Linked DNA regions of Homo sapiens: region 1 is linked to region 2. Evidence: fine-mapped expression QTL. Tissue or cell type: lymphoblastoid cells. Region 2 holds a variant in brackets; the other region holds the start of a gene. All regions are shown on one strand. Distances are from middle to middle.

Region 1 (2,911 bases), 20 kb before region 2:
TGCACTCCAGCCTGGGTGAAAATCCGTCTCAAAAAAAAAAAAAAAGGAATCGGTATGAGAGATGGAGTCAGGAACACTGCTCAACTCGAGATTATCACACATCTCTCGTTCTTTCAATATTGGTACCGAAAGAAAATAATTTTACTTATCTCCCTCCGTGCATTTATTCCTTTACAATATGAATTATTTCCAGTCTGGCTGGCGTATCTCACTCCACACCCCAAGCTAGTGTCATAAACCATTTTCCCCAAGAGAAACCTAGAGAAAGATACATAAGCCTAAGGCTCTTAAAAAAAAAAATGAAGCATGTGTCTTCACCTCGCCTTACACTTTTCTCAGTTACCTCTCCCGAGGGTGTGAAAATATCAACATCCGGTCGCCCACCCCCACTCTCTCAGCAGTGCCTCGCATTGACTCTGCCCATCCCCTATCATTCCCTTTACAGTCTCATCACCTTGGAGAAGCCCATCGAATATTTCTTCCCATTGCTCCCCCACCCTTATTCATGGCTCAGCGCGATATTCTCCACATTTTTCTCCCAAGAAGTGGCAAAAAAGAAAGCAGCATGGTCGACGACGAAACCGGGGAGGCCTGACAACCAGACGGCAGTTTAAGGCGACGGAACTGGCTCTTTCCCCCCATCTCGGCCTCCGACCAGCAGTCGGTTCTCTAAATGTGAAATCGCTGGTCTTCCCGCTCCCCCACCCCCATCCCCATCCCCGTCAGAGGCCAAGCCGGTAAAATGCAAAGACCAAGGGGAAGCGCGAGGCAGGGTCATCCCTAACGAAGCCCGCTCCCTCCCGGGCTGGTGTCCCCGGGGGGGGGCTGGAGATTGCGGGAGGAGGAGCGAGCGGCCCTCGCCCAGAGACCCCCGGAGACGCGACCCTCGACACCCGGGCCCTTTCCCCACCCGGCTTCCCTCCCCCGCGGCCCGATCCGGAGAACTGCAGCAGCGCCCGGGCGGACCCCAAGCCGGCCTCACTGGCACACACGCCACACACAAAAGCGCCGCGGCCGCCGCCTTCCCACCCCCACAGCCCGGCGAAGCAATCAATGAGGCGGCCGGCGCCCGCGTCCCCTCCGTGCACACCCGAACACGGGGCCGAGCGGGCCAGCGGGGCTGGCAGCGCGGCTCACCATCGCTGCGCTTGATCTCCACGTAAATCCCGATCTGGATCTTGCCGAAGTTGGCCGTTGCCATCACCTCATCTGGAGCAGCAGCAGCGGGCCGAGGGAGGGGGACCGGAGGGCGGAAAAGGCGGGGAGGGGGCGGGGTAGGTGTGGGAGGGGGAGCGGTTGCCCGCGGCCGCGCCGGCCCGGGCGACAGCGTGAACGCAAGCGGGGCCGCAAGGAGCAGCTGTGGGGAAGCAGGCGGAGGCCCCGGGCCTGCAGGCCGGCAGGAGGACGCGCACGCCGGGTAGTCGGGGTGAAGCTAGGGCCGGGGCCGTGAGACGGCGCGGGGTAGAGTGGGAGGGCCCGCACCGCCCGCCGGGGAGCCGACGCTGGGGAGGCGGGGCGCCGCGCGCCTGCGCAGAGCGCGCCTCCGGCGTCTCTTCTTCCTTTTCGGCTGGCCTCTCCCCGCTGCCTCCAGGCGGCCCCGCCCAGCTCTGCAGCGGGGTGGGCGGCGGCCGCGGCTTACCCAGCCGCTGGAGCGTTGAGCGCTCGGCCCGGCCCACAGCTAGCCGGCGTCGCGTTTGATTTCAGCGCGCGGCCTAGAAGACGCGGGAAGCGTCGCGCCGAGCTTTCTTGCCCTCTCGCTTCCGGGAATTGGCGCTGTTGCCGGAATGGGTTAAAGGCCACGTGGTTTCAGGGGCTTTCTAGCGGGCTGAGGGATGTGAATTCAAGGGCCCTCCGTTGACAGTACGGGATCCGGGTTTTCATCGGAAGGTGGCACCCCCTATTTCCACTTACAGGTAGCTGACCCAAGCAGCCCTCCCAAGCACACTTGGTGTAGGTTTCCCATCCAGTTACGCTGGAAGGGAAGAAACACCCTTGAGGTGTCACCTACCCTAAATCGAAATGAAGATCCACCCCTTTACAGTCTTGCCTTATAGTTTATCACACTCAGAAAGAAGCTCTGTGGTGGGGCGTCCTTAACTGTTCAGGTTATGAGGCATCCGATGCTGGTGCCCTGTTTCTGCTGAGGGTTCAAGACTTACTTGCCTTGGCCTGTAAAGCCAACAACTGTGACTCAAGGGAAGAAGGCAGACACATAAGGTTGACTAGGGAATGTGTCTTTTTGCAATAATTTAATTAGTCTGACCACATCAGCAATGTGGAAAGCAAGACTCTCCATCCTGGCAGAGCAGGAAGGCCACGTGTACCGGGGCCCTGGAAACTGTATTTATAGCACCGTGTGAAAACCTCCAAACGTCTAACTCCTGCTTGTAGTACTGGCAATTGATAGGTTGGAAACAACACTTTTCATGGCCTACTTTCCCTAGTCATTGTTTTTTGTTGTTGTTGTTTTGTTTTGTTTGTTTTTGAGGGGGAGTCTTGCTCTGTCGCTCAGGCTGGAGTGCAGTGGCGCGATCTCCGCTCACTGCAATCTCTGCCTCCTGTGTTCAAGCGATTCTCACGCCTCAGCCTTCCGAGTAGGTGGGATTACAGGCCCGCGCCACCACGCCTGGCTAATTTTTGTATTTTTAGTAGAGACGGGGTTTCACCATGTTGGCCAGGCTGGTCTCAAACTCCTGACCTCAGGTAATCCACCCGCCTCCACCACCCAGAGTGCTGAGATTACAGGCATGAGCCACTGCGCCCGGCCTTCCCTAGTCATTGATAATCTCCCTGTAACAATAACTACAAATATACAATTTAAAATTTTAAAATTGGAAACTGGATATATACATCAATGCTTATGTGGATATATGTGTGCCTAGAGTTTTCTATCTAATGTAAGTAATCATGT
Region 2 (2,911 bases):
CCCCACACCTACTTCCCTCTGCTAAGGACCTTGTCCAGCCTCCATTCCTGACACCCTCTCTGAAAGGATATCACTTCTGTTAGATGGCAGCTGCCTGCACAGCCTTATACCTTCTGGTTTGTCTCCTGTCCTCCAGGCTCTTTCAATATTTTATTTTCTGCACATACGTGCCCATACTCACAACTGAATCTACAAGTAGGCAGATCTCAAAGGAAGGAGAAAAAATGGGTCAAGCCACACATGCCTCGATCATTTCCTCCAAATTCACCTACCAGTTGCCTCTGTCCTCTGTGGAAAGTAGTGAATGAGGAGGAAAAAGGAGAACTGAAGTGTTGCTCTAACAGAGGTCTCACAGCATGAAAATATCAAATGTAGAGAAAAAATGTTCCTGAGTAACAATCCATATGTAACGTATGTGTGTCTACTATGCATCTTGCCTGAAATAGCATACAGGCATATTGAACTTAAAATCCATCATACTGAACTCATCACTTAAAAAATACATTCCAACCTCAGAATCTGTGTTTCTGTCTACATTTTCTATTTTATAATTTATCTAATTACTCAAATAAAAATTTGGGGATTCATCTTGGATTCTCCTCCTCCCTTCACCCTTCCTAAATATTACTTCTCTCCATAATCTTCTTGCTATTTCTACTGCCTTAATTAAGGCTGCCATTACTTCTCATTTGGATTATTACACCAAAAAAAAATCTCCTAATATATCTCTCTATATCCAGATTTACCTTCCTGAAATCCATTTTGTTAAACTGCATCTAAAGTTATCTTTTGGAAATTCAGATCTTATCAGGTGACACTCCTGCTTAAAACTCTCCAGGGGCTCCCCATTGTTCTATGATGTTTATCAAAGTGTGATCTTAGATTGCCTTTGACCAGAATCATTTGGATGACATATTAAAAATACAGTTTTCTAGGCCATATCACAGATTTAATGAATCAGAGTCTCTGGAGATGCATTTTTAACTTTTATTTCTAGAAAGGAATTATTATGCACAAAAAATTTTTGTAAATGTTTACTCATAAGATTAAGTTGAAACTCCTTTTTAGGGTATATAACACATTTCAGCATTTGGTTTATATTACCTCTTTAATTTTTCATCTTACCACTACCTCTGCAATTTGTGTTCTAGGAAAAACATGTTTCCTCATGAATCATTTCACACTTCTTTGTCTTTTAATCTGCTTGTTTCTTAGCTTGATGCATTTTTCTCACCCAATTCTCTTCCATCTGATGAAAACCTATTTATCTTTCAAAATCTTATTAGAATTTCATATATGTGAAAGGACAAGTGGACAAGGACAGATGGAAACCCATGTTTATTCTTATTGCCTCTGGCCTTTGTGATGAGGATATCCTGTAAAAGTGAGGGCTCCTCAGCCCAGCGACCTGGCGGGGGTGGGAGGAGCTGAGGGAAAATCCAGGGGAAGTTAGAGCAACTGCAGGCACAAGCCCTGCTACTGCTTCACACCAATGAAGTGAGTCAGCAGATCAGCAATAATGTAGGTGTGAGCTACAAAATGGCCACCGTTTCCCTACCACCCTCCAAATTTCTCAAGAATCTTCCTTGTGACCCACTCTAACTAGAAGCATACCAGAAAATGAATTCTAGGAAATGTTCCACCTA[C/T]GCAGGTTGACACATTACAAAACTACCACACACTGGATAATCTATTTTAGGCAGGGTGGTCAGATCTCATTGGTGATATGACTTTTTTTTTTTCTTTTTTGAGACAGAGTCTCTGTCACGTAGGCTGGAGTTCAGTGGCATGGTCACAGCTCATTACTGCCTAGACTTCTAGGGCTTAAGTGATCTTCCTGCCTCAGCCTCTGAAAGTGCTGGGATTACAGGTGTGAACCACTGTGTGCAGCCAGTGAGATGACATTTGCACACCAACTAAAGTGAAGGATTGGGCCAAGAGAAAAAAAGGAGAGATGACCAGGACATACAAAGGCCTTGAGGCAATGGCATCTGGATGGAGGACTCTGAAGAAGGGTCAAATACCCAAAGAAAAAGCAAGATCCAGCAGAGTCTCAGGAATAGTTAGAATGAAGGACCCCAACACCCTAATGGCTTTCTCTCTGCCATTCTGTTTCTCTCTGTGTCAACTTCATTCTCTTTCACTTTAGACTGGCTTTCTCCACCTGGTGGAAACATGGTCACAGGAAGCATCGAAGTTTGACATCTTATATGTGTAGCTATCAAAGAAACTATCTTTATGTTCTCTGTGATAGCCCATCAAAAAATTTGGGGGAAATTACTCATTGCCCTAACAGGTTATTTGCCCATTCTTGGAAAAATTAGTTCCAAAGGGCTATGATATTAATTACCTGTTCTTGTGTAATAAATTATGCCCAAACTTAGCAGCTTTAAACAACAATAAACATTTGTTATATTACACAGTTTTTGTGCAAAATGAATTTAGGAACAGCTTAGCTGGATGGTTCTGTCTTGAAGGGGGTGTCTCAAATGAAGTTGCAGTTCAGATGTCAGCTGGAGCTGCAGTCATCTAAAGGATTAACTAGGCTGGAGGATCCATTTCCAACTATACTCACTCACAATTCTGGTAAGTTAATGAAGGTTGTTTCCAAGAGACCTCAGTTCCATGCCATGTGACACTTCCATATGGTTGCTTGAGGACTCTCGTGACATGGCATCTGGCTTTCCCTAGAGTGAATGACCCAAAGGAGCAAGGTGGAAACTATAGCATCTTCTATGACTTAGACATTGAAGTCATACTCTGTTTTTCCTTAATATCCTGATAGTTACATAGGGCAGACCCATTCAGTGTAGGAAGAGACTACATAAGTGTATGAATAACAGGAGGTGAGAATCTTTGGGGTTAATTTTGGGGGCTAGATATCAAGGCACTCTAATTTGCACAGCTTGCATTC

Alleles and levels. Alleles are on the strand shown, and positions count from the first base shown. SD is a standard deviation of normalised expression in the study named.
In carriers of allele C in region 2, the expression in lymphoblastoid cells of the gene that starts at base 1,468 in region 1 tends to be higher than with T alone (moderate effect, 0.74 SD a copy in GTEx).

The links. PIP is the estimated chance that this variant, and not a neighbour inherited with it, causes the effect.
Region 1: KIF2A starts here. The variant in region 2 is fine-mapped to the expression of KIF2A in lymphoblastoid cells (GTEx, PIP 0.98).

The regions. Positions count from the first base shown.
Region 1 is chr5:62,304,763-62,307,673 of GRCh38, reverse strand. KIF2A (kinesin family member 2A) reads right to left here and starts at 1,468. Exons shown (of 21, transcript NM_001098511.3): 1 at 1,138-1,468. The coding sequence starts at 1,201. RefSeq lists a silencer at 735-1,764.
Region 2 is chr5:62,284,340-62,287,250 of GRCh38, reverse strand. No RefSeq gene overlaps it. Among named protein-coding and RNA genes, the nearest start is that of KIF2A, 20 kb to the left of the region's middle. RefSeq lists enhancers at 1,505-1,784, 1,895-1,994. The variant C/T (reference allele first, on the strand shown) is at 1,647.